2 linked regions of the Homo sapiens genome follow. The protein of the gene in region 2 binds, or shares a complex with, the protein of the main gene of each other region. Each region holds a gene or a part of one and is shown on either strand. Other genes may lie near its edges. The genes, in order: CTBP2 and RAI2.

The links.
Region 1: the proteins of RAI2 (region 2) and CTBP2 are in contact, whole or in part, in a crystal structure (PDB 8ATI), measured with the Homo sapiens proteins. Residues at the interface, in NP_001166210.2 of Homo sapiens: Glu315, Ala316, Leu317, Asp318, Leu319, Ser320, Met321; in NP_001077383.1 of Homo sapiens: Leu35, Arg42, Cys44, Met48, Val57, Ala58, Phe59, Cys60, Asp61, Glu67, Ile68, His69, Lys71, Val72.

Annotation. Positions count from the first base shown.
Region 1 is NC_000010.11:125,157,545-125,164,727, reverse strand, and holds the start of CTBP2 (C-terminal-binding protein 2), read left to right. Parts: upstream 1-4,164; 5' UTR 4,165-4,409; intron 4,410-4,770; exon of another isoform or gene 4,771-4,871; intron 4,872-5,950; exon of another isoform or gene 5,951-6,093; intron 6,094-7,183. UniProt on the Homo sapiens protein: Corepressor targeting diverse transcription regulators. Functions in brown adipose tissue (BAT) differentiation. Isoform 2 probably acts as a scaffold for specialized synapses.
Region 2 is NC_000023.11:17,858,223-17,865,322, forward strand, and holds the start of RAI2 (retinoic acid-induced protein 2), read right to left. Parts: upstream 3,077-7,100; 5' UTR 2,876-3,076; intron 2,684-2,875; exon of another isoform or gene 2,287-2,683; intron 1-2,286.

The sequences.
Region 1 (7,183 bases), on a different chromosome or scaffold from region 2:
TAGGGCCACTATCTTTTTTTTCTACAACCATTGGTTCCTGGAAATGAAATAGGAAAGATAGGAAGCTGAGAAATAAGAACCTCGGTTAGAGGTCTTTGATTGTAGCGGGGGAGGCAGGCTGTGATGCAGCCGCAGGCCGGTCCCACGGGCCTTTTTCAGCCCCTGGGTTCCTACAGACATCAGAAGTGCTCCCGAGGAGGTATAAAGTAGGGAAGGAATTATGCCATCCTGTTTAAAGGCTGCCAGACGGAAGAAAATAAGTGCCTTACAAACTCAACGCTCCACACTGGGGCTGTGGATCTCTCTTTTCTTTCACTACTTTTTTTTTTTTTTTTTGATGGAGTTTCACTCTTGTTGCCCAGGCTGGAGTGCAATGGCGCGATCTTGGCTCACTGCAACCTCCGCCTCCCAGGTTCAAGCGATTCTCCTACCTCAGCCTCCCCAGTAGCTGGAAATACAGGCACGTGCACCACGCCTGGCTAATTTTTAGTATTTTTAGTTTCACCGTGTTGACCAGGCTGGTCTCAAACTCCCGACCTCAGGTGATCTGCCCACCTTGGCCTCCCAAAGTGTTGGGATTACAGGCATGAGCCACTGTGCCAGTCCAAGGGTTCCCATTTCTCCACATCCTCCTCAATACACGTTTTTTTCTCTTTTGTTGATAAAAGACATCCCGGTGGACATGAAGTAGTAACTTATCGTGGTTTTGATTTGCATGTCTCTAATGACCAGTGAGGCCAACCATCTTTTCATGTGCTTACTGGCCGTTGGCCATTTGTCTACCTTCCTTGGAGAAATGCCTATTGAGTCTTTGGCCATTTTTGAATTGGGTTTTTTGTTTGCAACATCTTAAAAAAAATAGTATGAAATAATTCACATGTTGGGGGCAAATGAGCTCCATATTTTAAAATGCAGGTAAAGTGAAGTGAGAAATACTTTTCAGCTCTCAGGATGCCTTGCTTTTAATGTCTTCAAAACAAATAATATATTAATAATACTTTCTCGGCCGGGCACAGTGGCTCACGCCGGTAATCCCAGCACTTTGGGAGGCCAAGGCAGGCGGATCACAAGGTCAGGAGATAGAGACCATCCTGGCTAACACGGTGAAACCCTGTCTGTACTAAAAATACAAAAAAAAAAATTAGCCGGGCATGGTGGCGGGCGCCTGTAGTCCCAGCTACTTGGGAGGCCGAGGCAGGAGAATGGCTTGAACCCGGGGGGCGAAGCTTGCAGTGAGCAGAGATCGCGCCACTGCACGCCAGCCGGTGACAGACTGAGACTCCGTCTCAATAATAATAATAATAATTATACTTTCTCTTTTTTTTTTCTTGAGACGGAGTTTCGCTCTGTCGCCCAGGCTGGAATGCAGTGGTGCAATCTTGGCTCACTGCAACCTCCACCTCCCTGGTTCAAGCGATTCTGCTGCCTCAGCCTCCCGAGTAGCTGGGATTACAGGCATGCGCCACCAGGCCTAGCTAATTTTTGTATTTTTTTTTTTTTAGTAGAGACGGGGTTTCACCATGTTGGCCAGGATGGTCTTGATCTCCTGACTTCGTGTTCTGCCCCGCCTTGGCCTCCCAAAGTGCTGGGATAACAGGCGTGAGCCACCGTGCCCGGCCAAGAACATGTTAGTAATACTTTCTAAGTCAGAATTCAAATTTATAGAACACGTGAAAGTGAAGGAGTGATATGGAAAATCAGGCTTTTTGTGGTTTCTTCCTGAGAAAAGAAGACCACTCAGAACCAAAGACTTCTGTGAAATAAGGAAGCAGAAAATCTTTATTTGTAGTTCTTATAGTTTATGCCTAAGAAACTCCGAAGAACAGGTACTGGTAACCCGGTAGCCTGGCGGTGGCCGCGGTTTGTTTACAGCCAAAAACTAGCTGAGGCGCCATGCCCTTGAGGCAAAACTGCTGAAGAGAGAAGCACCCTGAAGATCAGTTTGTGGAGATCCAGGGTTGCCAGAAGACGAGACAACCGTGATTGCATGTGCGGAGGTTCCTCGATGGAAGCGCAGCCCGGCGCGCCCCTCAGCTGGCCTGGCCAGGCCCTATGAAGGTCACGCGAAAACCCTGCTGCGGGCTTCTTAGCGACCGCATTACGTGGACTAGCGGGCAAGAAAAGCCTGGTCGGCGCTGCCCTCACAGGTAGGCGGTCTTCAATCACGTTTTAAAATCTTGTTGAGTGATTAAGCAATCTTCGATAGTCCCGGCCCCTCCACTGCAGGCCGCTCAGGCCGCAACGCACCTGGTGCGCTTTGGCAAACAAGCCCCGCGGCGGGCTGGGGCAGGATTTAAGAAATGTTTAATGAAGACTGGGAGGCCTGGAGCAACGCTCTTTGGGATGCAGAAAAGGGTCGTGCAGCTCGGTGGCCTCTCCTCCGGCCCCCTGGCCCTGGCTGTAAGTTTCCTCGGCTCTGCAGGGCGCGGGGCACTCAGGGATGGAGGAGACCACACCGCGCGGCTGGGTTCGCGGAATGGCGGTCCCTGCGGCCTCCAAAGGCGGGACCTCAGACCCCTCCCACTCCTTTCCTGCTCGACATCTCAATCCAGCTCCTAATATCTCAATAGGGTTTTTAAACAAATCGATCCTAAGGGCTCAGTTCAGCCCACCCAGGGATTCTTGGAGGACGCACGCCGAACTCAGGGTAGTGAGAAGAGTTTGGGGGGCCCTGGGGCGCAGGGAGAAGACCCCACACTCCACGGCCACCAGCTCCCTTCCGGAGACGGCGCTCGGACGTCGCGGGTCACGGGCGGGGAATTTAGCCCAGGTGCTCGTTGGGCCGCGAGCGGCCGCTGGGCCTGGATTCCCAGGCTCGCTGTGCAGACTCCAACCTTGAGACGTCAGGACGGCGTGGGCTCCGGGCCGCCGCGCAAGCCCAGGACCCCGAGTCGCGGGCCCCCACGCCGCAGCGCGCCTCCCTCCTCGAGACCCGGGGCTCCGACCCAACACAGGGCTTCTCAAATGCCCCGGCGAGATCCAGGCAGCAAGAGGGAACCTTTTTTTTTTTTTTCAATGTGTAAGAATGTTTTGCTTCTTTTAGGGCACAGCACTGCTGCAACTTGCAGCACAGAGGGCCCTTCCCTGCGCACCCACAGCGGTCGCCGCCTCTCCGGCACGGTCTCCCGGATCTGGATTTGGGGAGCGCAAGTGCCCCCTGTGGCCGGCCCGCGCCTGACCCCGCGGGCCTGAGAAGGCAGAAGCGGCCGGTGCGGGGCACCAGGAGGAAGTTGGAGCCCGGGGGCCGGGAAGGGGGCTGGTTGGCGCCGCTGGCTGGGCGGGGCCCCATGGGACCGGGGCCACCCGGGGCTCGCGTTCCCCCACGTGGCCGGCTGCCCGGTACCCCACGTGGAAGGGGCGGAGGAGGATGAAGGGCCAGGGGAGCAGCGGACCCCGAGCCACCGCGACAGGACCTCGGCCCCTGCCACCGAGGCCCCCGCGCCTCCCGAGGGCCTCCCGGGCGGGGCCGGGCTAGGGAGTGCCCGCCGCGCCCGGCCCCTGGCCCTCCCGCCCGCCGCGCTTGTGTGCACTTTCGCGGAGCCACTAATCCCCCGAGAGAGCCGATTTGTAGTGAGGAGTATCTGAAGGGGGCGAGGCCGGCCCATGTGGGGTTGTGTCATTGGTTTGCAAAAAGAGACCCCGCCTTTGCCCCCCCCCCCCAAAAACAGGAGCGAGGAGTGAGCGAGCGGCGACCCTCACCTCGCCTCCCGCCTAGCTCCTGCGCAGCCAGCGGGTACCGGGAGCTGCGGCCAGCGCCGCTTCTTTCCTTTCCTTTTCTCTCCGTTTTCCTTCTCCTTCCCCGGAGGAGAAAACAAATAAAGAAGAGCAAATAGCCGGGAGGCGCTCGGCATCCAGGACGTTCCCTCCCCCGATCCAAGTTGGAATTAGCATCCTCTCGGGGGTGAGCGCGGCGCGGGGCGGGCCCGGGCCGGGGACCCCCAGCGCAGCCCCCTCTCGGCGGGCGGGAGGGCGCGGGGCCGGGACGCGGGGGGAATTGGGAACCGGGTGGGCGGAGGAAGGGGGTGGGGTGGGTGGGGAAGTAGGAAGAGGCTCGGCGGCGAGGGGAGGAGGTGGAAGGGAAGGGAGGGGTAGGGTGGGGAGGGGAGGGGAGCGGAGGGAGGGTGGGGAGGGCGGGAGGGGGAGGGGCGGGGAGCTGGAGAGATTAAGTTTTTGTGTGTGTGTCCCTGTGTGCGTGTGTCATTTTAAGGTGGCTCGGGAGCGGCCCGGAGGAGCCGGCGGCGGCCCGAGGAGCGAGGGACCGAACCGGGAGCCATGCCGCGCTGAGGGGGGGCCGCACAGCCGCCGCCACCGCCACCGCCGCCGGGTGGGGTGGGAGGGGCGGGAGACGCCGCCGCCGCCGCCTCCAGGGTGGGCGCCTTTCGCCGTGGACGCCGACCGTCCGGGACGAGGTAAGGGGGGCCCCGGGGGAGGGCTGGGGCCGCCGCCGCCCCCGCCTCACCTGCGGCCGCGGGCTGGGGGCGCCGCGCCCGCGCCTCACTGCGCCACTCAGGGAGGAGGAGGAGGAGGAGGAAGAGGGCGAAGGACGCGGAGCCGGCATCCGAGGACATCTTTGGTCCGTGCCCCCGGCCTCGTGTCCCCCCTCGGCGCCCGGGGGTGGACGCTGGCTCGGGGGTCCCCGCCCGCCCCCGCCACCGATTGCGCCCGCTGGCCGCCGTTTGCGCCAGGATTTTTGTTGTTGTGATGAGAGTTGATGAATGCGAAGTAGGCGGTCACCTTCCTTCCCATCAGGGTTGAAAAAAAAAAAAAAAGAAACCCCGAGCGCGGCGGCGTCCGGAGGGCAGCGGCGGCGGCGGCGGCGGCGTCTCGGCGACGGTTCCCTGGGCGCCCCCGGCTCCTGCTCCCTGAGCCCGGTGGGTGCGCGCCCGGGGGCCGCCGGCGACCCAGGCCGAGCGCGCGACGCGCCGCGGGGACAATACGGCCGGATCTCCGGGGAACAGGAGTCCGAGCGCGCCGGGGTGCGGCGGGCCTTGCGCCTACGAGGCGAGGGTGGGGGGGGCGCGGAGAAGAGGGGTTCCGTGGGGAAGTCGGGGCGTGAGCGGCTCTCGGTCCCCAGGGGCGCTGCCCCTGCCGGCGGGGGATCCCGCGCGGCTCCCCGGGAGCGCAAGTGAAAGACGGGAAAGGAGGCGAAGTGGAACCCTTTTGTTTTGCCGGCCCCGCATTGTTGGCTCCTCCGGGCAGCCGGGCCACATCTGCTGCCGCTGCCGCCGCCGCCACTGCCGCGCGGGGCTCGGCCCGCCAAAGTCGCGGCGGGGCGGGGGGCCTGGGCGGGCCGGGCGGCGGGCGCGGGCGGGGGCCGGGCGGGCCGGGCATTTCCTCTGCCCGGCCGCGCTCCCGCGGGCACCACTTCCTCCTCGCCCGCCGCCGCCGGGAGCCCGGCCCGCCCGCCTCCCCCACCTTCCCCGCCCGGGCCGCACTTTTCGGGTGGGGCGAATCAAAAAGAAAAAGTTTAGCAGGAGGGGCTGGCTAGGGCGCGCCCCGGGCGGCAGGGACCCGGTGCGGCGCAGGGACAGCCGGGCCGCCGCGGTTCCTCCTCCTCCCAGCCCTCCGCGGCGCCGGACGGCCCCGCGCGGCCGAGGGGAAGCGCCTTTCTTTCTCTCCCTCGCGCTGCCCCCAGCGCCCCGGGCGAGTTGGGCAGAGGCGCGCGGGAGCCGGGGCGTGCCTGGGCCTTTCTCCCGCGGGAGGCCCAGCGGCGTGGCGGGTCGCCTGCAGCCCACGCCGCGCCCTGGGGCTCGGAGGCCGCGGGCCCAAGAGCTCAGCTCGGTCACCGCGGGCCGCGCCGAGACACACACGCGCGCACACACTCCCTCCCGTGGCTCGCTTTCCGCCGGCGACGACGGTCGCGGACACGGAGTGAGCGTGTGCGCGCGAGTGTTTGTGGTTGTCCCCCCTCCCCCCGCCCGGTACTTTTTCCGGAGGCGGCCCAAGCGGCAGTTGGCTGCAGAGGACCCCACGTTTAGGATTTTATAGGGAAGAGGAGGAATTTTTCGTAGAAATCCCCGCTCTGCGTGCTCGTGGTGGAGGCTGCTGGCAATGGCCTACGTCGTCATACCGGGCTTCCTTGCCCTGTCCGGGGTAAACAATCCTTCTGTGTATTTACCCCCTTTTTTCTTTAAAGATTGGAGATCGGGTTAAGTTCTTAGAGAGTCTGATGCGAGTGGCTGGAAGGATAGACAAGAGAATTCTATTCTATAAATATGCATTGGGAATTTAAAATGCTAAACGCCTTATTTGCAATTCTGTTGGATATTCTAGAGACTGGTATATTTTTATCTGACATGGATAATTTTGAGGGGACGTTATATTTTGGGGAAGTTTACAAAGTGATTCTTTCTGCCTTTCTAACTTGGGCGAAATATATCGACTCATACCACCCTTTCAAAAAAGATAGCTTTCTCTACTAGGTGTTTGGGTTCGAAGACAGTTTAAAAATTACCTCGTGTTCAGTACCTAAGATTGCTGTTTTGCCTCGAGGGTTTTCCAAGTAGAAGTGGGTAGTTTTCATGTACTTTGAGAATTCTGAGGTTTTTAACCCCCCCCTTTTTTTTTAAATATAAATCTTTTCTATTTTGAAGTAATGAGACTTTAAAGGATCTTGTTTTTGTAATCACTTGATTTCAAAGGATACTTCTTACAGCAATTATAAAGTAATAGTCAAAATGCTAATTAGACATTTTCAGTCATAGCTGCTTTAATGTTGAAACAGAATTTTTTTCTTTAGCAGAGACTGTATCGTAGAGTTGAAACGCTAAATATTCTTTTGTCTGGCATCAGATCTCTGAACTGCTCTGACATTCTCCTGAAAAACCCCTAGTGCCCTTTTTATTGCCCCCAAAAGAAAAGTTAATGAGATGGTAGATTTCAAGCAAAAAAACAGGCCCTCTTTCTTGCAAAATATGCTTACAGTTGCCATTGAAGTTGGATGTTAGCCGTGAATGCACTTGCCTTTAATGAAACCAGTTTAATCGTTCACACTTGATCAAGTATAACATGAGCAAACAAAGGAAATAAGCCAGCATATTTCTGTAGAGTGTAAGTGTTGATGTTGGGTCACCCCCTCCCCCTACCCTGCCCCCCTGTAAAAGGGAGAGAGGGTTGAAGGCAAAGGGAATTTATGGCGCTGATTGGTTTTTTGTGCCCCAGGGGTAGGGGACCCCAGTTACAT
Region 2 (7,100 bases):
TAAATCATAACCACCAAAGTCTGAAATCAGATACACAACTGGAAATTTATCTGAGCCTCAGATTCCTTATCTGTAAAATAATTCTTCCATCACAGGGTGGCTGAGAAGGTTTACCACATGTGAAGTGCCTAGCAGACAGAGGCCAACAATACATGTTAGTTCCCTTCCCAATTTATTTCCCTCCACTACCATCCTCTCCAAAATTCTAAGCTTAGGGGAGAAGCCAGAGAACAGACGTTTCCTATTTTCTTATCATAAATTTGGAGCACGCTGTGCAGGGCTTTCTGCACATCCAGAGTATCTCCATTCTGGATCAATGGATTTGGGAGGCCAGTCCTATCCTCAGCTTCTGGGTCATTACAGCTAGAGCACTCCCAGCAACAGCTCCTCACACACCTTCCAGTCTTTGATTTTTCTTTCTTGTAGTTCAGATGGTCCTGTTTCAGGGACTCTGTATTCTGGATACAAGATTTTGAAATGTGTCTTACAGTTCTTCCCCAGCTGCCCACCAAACCGTGTTCTCACCCCAGCGATCGGCATCGCTTGGAAAACTGTCTTTTCATTTGTTCCTCAGATGAACAGGTTTTCCTGGGCAAAACATCACCACTGGAGGTCTTGGCTTTTTTTCATCATAAAGGAACCCCCTCGGGTGGCTGAATGGTCCCCTGGGCTGGTGCCAAAGTAGTCACTACCCCCAAGTTCCAGTCTGACTTGGTTCATAGTGCCTGGGCTGCCCTGGGGATGCCTCTAGTGGGCATCTGTCAGGACGAGAAGCGAGTGCCCATTTGAAGGAGACTGTGTGTATGTGGGGGTGTGGGGGCAGGTGGCTTCTCTGGGCTTGTAAGAGGCAGAGAAACTGGGATGCCACCATCTTACAATTCTCTGCCTTCCAGCCCACCCCTGGCTTCTCATGTTCCCGTTTGAGAAGAAAACTAGCCTCCATACTGTCCCCTTCCGTATTGTCCCCCTCCCACCTTGCCACCCCTCTACTGTAACAAAGGCATGTCCACACCACATTTTCAAAGTTGTCACAAGTCTCTCGGTCCACCAACAACCAATTCTGATGACTCCAAAGGAGCAAGAGAGACATCCAGAAAACGGTGGGAAAGATTCCCTGGGAAAAGCACAGAAAACCTTGCCTGATGCTTGCAAGGCTAAGAATTGTTTTCTCCCTGCTGGCTGCTTTTCTCTCTGTTCTAAAGAGAAGCTTCCAAGAATCAGTTAAATAAAGGGATCACACCAGAGGATGCGAGATAATGCTAAACCAACAAAAACAAAGACCCAAATGAAACAGACAGAGCCATGAGAATACGCGGTTATCAAAACTTTGTTTGGCCATATCTATTTATCATCGCTGCACACCCGGGCTCTGCGGAATATCATTCTGTTGATGTCACTTATCCTCAGCAAAATATTTACACATCCTTAAAAACGCCAGATGAGGGGGGCCGGCCCGCGCACTGCCGCAAGCCGCCCCTCAAACCCCATCGCTGGGTTCTGAACAGCCCACGACATAGGGGCACGACGGTGGGTGGCACCAGCGGGCACAGGTGAGAGCTACCAACAGTTCCGGGAACACGGTCACCCAGACGCTGCGCCGTGCCCTCCCCACCTCTCCCCTACCTGACTCTGCAAGCAGCAGCCACATACCCGATATGGTGTCGGCGCCTCCTTGTCCTCCTCTCCTGCCTTTTTCATTGATTAAGTTCTCAAACCATTGTTAAAGCTGGGTTGCTTTTTCCTTGGAAAACTGGGCTAAATTCATTAAGCTTCCCTCTGCCACAAAAGGAATATTCATAAAAGTTTGGCAGGCAGAAAGGGAGACTGAGTGAGTGCCATGGTGTGGGTAACAACCCGCTCCTCCAAAGCCACCTTCTTCTTCCGTGCCCCATCCCTCTCTCCATCCATCCGTCGTGCCCCAAACCTACTCCAAGGACTTCTGATAGGGAAACACAAAGCAGCAGCTGTTTGGCAACATTTCTACCCCTCGCCAGCAACTGTGGTGGGATGCCATTTCCCCACCCAGGCGGAGCTTATCCTGAACAATAGTCGGGCTTTAAATGGCAAACAAGCAAACACACAGAGCACAACCCCAACCCCGAAAAAGCCACCGCGGAGAGAAGCAATAACTCCCTCCGCAGCAAAAGGCGCCACTGAAACGCACGCAAAAATGCAGCGAGAACGTTGCTCGGTGCCTAACATGGCAGAAAGCCCGAGCTGGTGCGGCCACCCCGGGGCTGGGCATTGGGGGGCACCGGGGCTCCCGGGGCGCCGACGCACACTCACCCGGCTCCGGGGGGGATGCGGGGCTGGCCGCGCGTCACAAAGAGGAGCCCGGCGCAATCTGGCAAAACCCAACTTTCCACCAGGCTCGCCAGGGCCGCCAGATACGTCAACAGAATCCATCTTTCGAAGGGCCTGGAAGGCGCCGGGTTTTCCGGGCCGGGGCAGAACGGCAGATCCGGAGACTGCCCGGTGCGGTGCCTGGGCGCGGAGTCCGCCGTGCACCGCCCTCTGCGCCCGATGCCAGTGCGGGCGGCGGCCCGAAACCCACTTCGGGGCCCCCGCCCCGCCGGCCGGCGCCGCCTCCCCGGCAGTCCCCGGCCCCGCCGGCCAGTGCGCGGCGCCGGGAACGGGAGCGGGGCCCCGGCGCGCCACACGGGCGGCGGCCTCGGCCCGCGTCCCCGCCCCCGCCCGGCCCTCCCAGCCGGCCCCGGCCTCCGGGCGCCGTCCTGCCCCCGGGAGCAGGCCCCTCCCCGGGCGCCGGGCCCCGCCAGGCGCGCCCAGCCCGGCGCGCCCCCTGCGTCCCGGTGGCAGCTCCGCGCGGGGAGGGCGGGGGTGACCCCGGCCCGCACGGGGGCGCCGCGGCCACTACCTCGCAATCGCGGCCGCCGCCTCCAGGAAGCCGCGGGGTGGTCGAGTGTGCTGGAACTCTCCGGTCTGGCCTCGCCGCCGGCCGCCTGAAGGGGGTGCGCCGCGGTGGGAGCCGCCGTCGCCGCTGTCACCGAGTCGCTGTCGCCGCCGCCGCTGCTGGTTGTGCGTGAGCGTGTGTGCGCCTGTGTCCTGGCGAGTGTGTGTCTGCGTGCGGCGCCCGGCCTTTACTATATACACCAAGGGGTGGGAGGAGGCGGGGAAGGGGAGGGCTTGGGGGAGGCGGCGGAGGAGGGGGAGCAGGAGGGGGGCGAAAGGGTACCCGAGGAGGCGGCGGCGGAGGAGGGACAGGTGATCTCGCCCACGGGGAGGGCGTGGCCGTGGGCGGCGCGGGGTGCCAGGAAGAAGGGGTGTCGGGGCGGGGAGGAGGACCTTGGGGGGAGCGCCGGGGGAGGGCCGGAGGAGCTGGGACCCTACTGCCTCCCGGCGGGCTGGGGACCATTCCAGACCCCAGGATGGAGAAGAGCGAGGAACAGAGCCCAGAAGGGAGGAAGTGGCTGGCTGATGGAAGCGGGGGAGGTGGGAAGGGCTCAGCGATCACCCGAAAATGCCAATTGTGATACCGGTGGAGGATGCTTCTCACAAGGTGGGAGATTAGGAAAGATCAAATTAGTCCACCTACGTAATGTAATTTCCATCCAAGAGGTGATTCATGTATCAATCTAACCTTTATTAAGCGCCTAGTGTTTGCCAGATACTGGGCAAAGAACTGGAGTTACAGGGACGGTGACTGTATGATTGCTGACCAGTAAATAAGTAGTAGGTGTCAGTTGTACTATTGATCATTTTAAAACTGAAAACAATAAACCCTTAGAATTCTTGAGACAGCCAAGGAAGCAACCAAATTGGTTTAATGATTCTCCAAAGATGTAAAGATTTTTTTCTATTAATCAAAACAGGATGAAGATATTTGAGAGAGAATAGCAGAGCAGAAATTATTTAATCAGAGCAGAGAATAAAATGAATCTAGTTGTTCTTGGTAGTCTCGAGCCCCCTGAAGTTCCAATACTGTGTGTATTAAACATGACTTTCCTCTTATCAAATCTGAGTTTTATAACACAGTTTATAATTAGTATGGGAGCCTGAACTTGTGTTTGAAAGGCTGTATTCTAACTATGTTGTGTTGCAAGCATAAGGTGGTAGTAACTGAGGCTGAATGATGTCTGTCTTGAGCACTTTTGCCTTTGTGGACTCCTTCCTCCGTAGAAAGATATTACAAATTACATTTTACAATTGCATTTGTGTAAAGATGAATATAATAGCATTATATATTAAAACAGTTTCTTCAACCTAAAAATTCATTTTTTCTTCTGATTTTAAAAGAAATTAAAAGATTTATGTGGGTCCCTAAACATGAGCCCCAGGCACTGTGTCTACTATGCCTAAGGGAGAAGTCAGCCCTGGTAGTACCATTCCTTGATACTGAATTTCCTCTTTTGAAAAAGAAGAGTTAAATTAAGAAGTACCCAGACCACACAGGGGTGGAAAGACACACAGTGCAAGTTTAAGAATTGATAATAATGAATATCAACAGAAAGTGTCAGTTTCTACTTGTTTCAATCAGGTTTTGGGGGGTTTAAAATCAGCCCCAACTAATTAATGATACCTGTGGAAATATTTATGAATGTGTCTTCAATCATTTCAGCAACCAAAGACTTCCTCTATAGATCTCATAACTGTTCTAAGTTCTTGGATAAGGTATGTGAGGTCTCGGTTGCCAAGACCTAGCCTGAATCCAACTAAAGACACAGCTGGGCAATTATAATTGGGCAAGTTCATGGATGAAAGATCCATAAAGGTTTTGTGTGTGTTGAGGGGGTATGTGTGTATAAGGTAGGGATTGATATCCTGGAAGGCAATTACTAGCCTATTTCTTTTGTTGGCCTCATCACAACCCTGGGTTAATGTTTGATCCTCACTGGCAGTTGTGATTCATATTTGCTGCCCTTTGAGGTGCTTATGTTTTCAGGAAAGATTATATTGATTCAGATTAATGCAGAAGAAATAGGCTTCATGGCCCCCATTCCCAAATAAACATACAGTGGCACCCTTCTGCCTTTTCATCCTGGCTGCCCTTGCAAAGGGAAGGAAAAAAGGTTCATAAAGGGTGGGTCTGGATTTGTGTGTGCGTGTGGGGTGGTGCTTTGGGACAGAAATAGGACATTAATGTGGAATAATTTTGTTCATACAGTTAAAGGGGTGCCTAAGAAAATGGAGGGAAGAAGGAACATGCCGAAACAGCAGGAAAGAACAACCTCAAAATCTTCCAGGATGGGTCAGGGTGATTTTTGAGATCTGTAATTGTAATATTTGGTGATTTTAAATAAGTACCCAAGAAATTTCCCATCCCAGATCTTATTCTTTTTACCCATATCCTCCTTCTCTCATACAGCATCTCCTTATAATCGAGTTTCCACATACTTGCCAGATGAGCGATTAGTTTGTTTATCCAATAAACATCTATTAAGCACCTACTAGCTGCACAGTCACTGAGCTAAGGATGTGGGTTAGAGATATGGTGAATACATGGTTTCTGACCCCAGTATGCTCACAGATTATTAAGAACTGTTAATAATACAATTTGACATTGTGTGGTACATGGTGAGTTATAAAATAGGCTGGGTGAACACCCAAGGAGTGGGCCTATTCCTGCACTGGGAAGGAATAGGGAATGGCATGGGGCAGGGAAGTCAGAAAAGGTTGCCAGAGATGGTGACAGTTGCTGAGTGCTGAGAGACAAATAGAAGTTTCCAAAGTAAACAAAAGGCATTATAAGTGAAGGGAACTGAAGCTGGGATGCAGAACACTATCTAGAGGCTGCAGATTTTTTGTAAGTCCAGAGTAGAGGCTGTGAGGAATAGTAGAGGAGGGGGAAAGGGAAGCTACAGGTCACTTGAAGTCCCTGGTCTGTCCTGTCAAGGAGCTTTTCCTTGCAGTCAGTGAGAACCATTGAAAGGCTTTAAGCAAGGGAATGACAAGGAAAGATTTGGATTGAGGAATGATCACTCTGTTGGTTGGTGTGGTGGGCTGATCAGAGGGAGGTGAGATTGGCAGCAGGGAGACCAGGTAAGAGAGGCTGTTGCAATGATTGGTCCTGCCAGCAGAGATGAAGAGTAGGAACTTGAGTCAGGTGGTACTTGGGATGCAGAATCAACAAGGCTTGATGATGGAGGAAACAGGAGTAAGGGTGACTGACACCTGGTTTTCTGACTTGGGTGACAGGGTGGGTGGGGGCGTGGTCACTGAGATAGAGGTCCCTAGGAAGAGAAGCAGATTTGGGGCTGGCAATGACAAGTGTCGTAGGTTCCCCCAGAAGCATATCCTGAGACAAGGATTCCAGTGCAGAAAGTTGATTTGGGAACTGAAGGAAACACTGTAGGGGAGGAGGGAAGGAAGCCAGAGGGACAGCCATCAATGGGAGGCATGTTCACAAGGCCAGTTACCACTGTGAGCAACTGGAGCTTAATCCCACAGGCAAACTCTTGGACAGGATACCAAGCACCCACTCCAGAGATGAAGAAGCTAGTTAAGAGCAGTCCAGGGGGTGCTGATTTTCTGGCAATTCCAACCTACCACCCAGCATAGGCAGAAGATCCTTCCCAAATACAGAGAGAAGATCCTGGCAGCTGGATGTCTGTGGAGCACATTAAAGTGGTAGCACCCAAGGGATGTGGGTGGTGCATCATCAGTATCTGCTCCAGGGAGTTCTGGTTAAGACATCTCGAATTGGAGGTGCCTGTTGATTAGCCGCGTAGAGCTGTCCAGTAGGCATTTGGAAGAGTAGATCTGGAGTTCAAAATTTAAGTTGCAGACCAGGATTTTGGAGTTGTTAGGCCCCGGGTGTTGGTTGAACCAGTATTACTTGGTGAACTCTGTAGAAGACATGTGTGAATTGGGCTGGTGGCTGAGCCCTTCACCCTGGGGTACACCAACACAATCTGACCTCATCTTTATGAACATGTGGGTTTCTCAAGGGGTTCCTGAAAGCCCTGAAATTGTAGATGTCAGTTTAATGCTCACCGGTGTGAATGCATCTGGGGAAATTGTCTATTGCTTTCAAGAGATTCTTAACTTCTTAAGGGGTCTATATTTTACTGAAGTGGAATAATGTATTTAAAATGGAAACTTTGTTTTACAAATGTTTTCGTGGTTAATAATATTTACTGGGT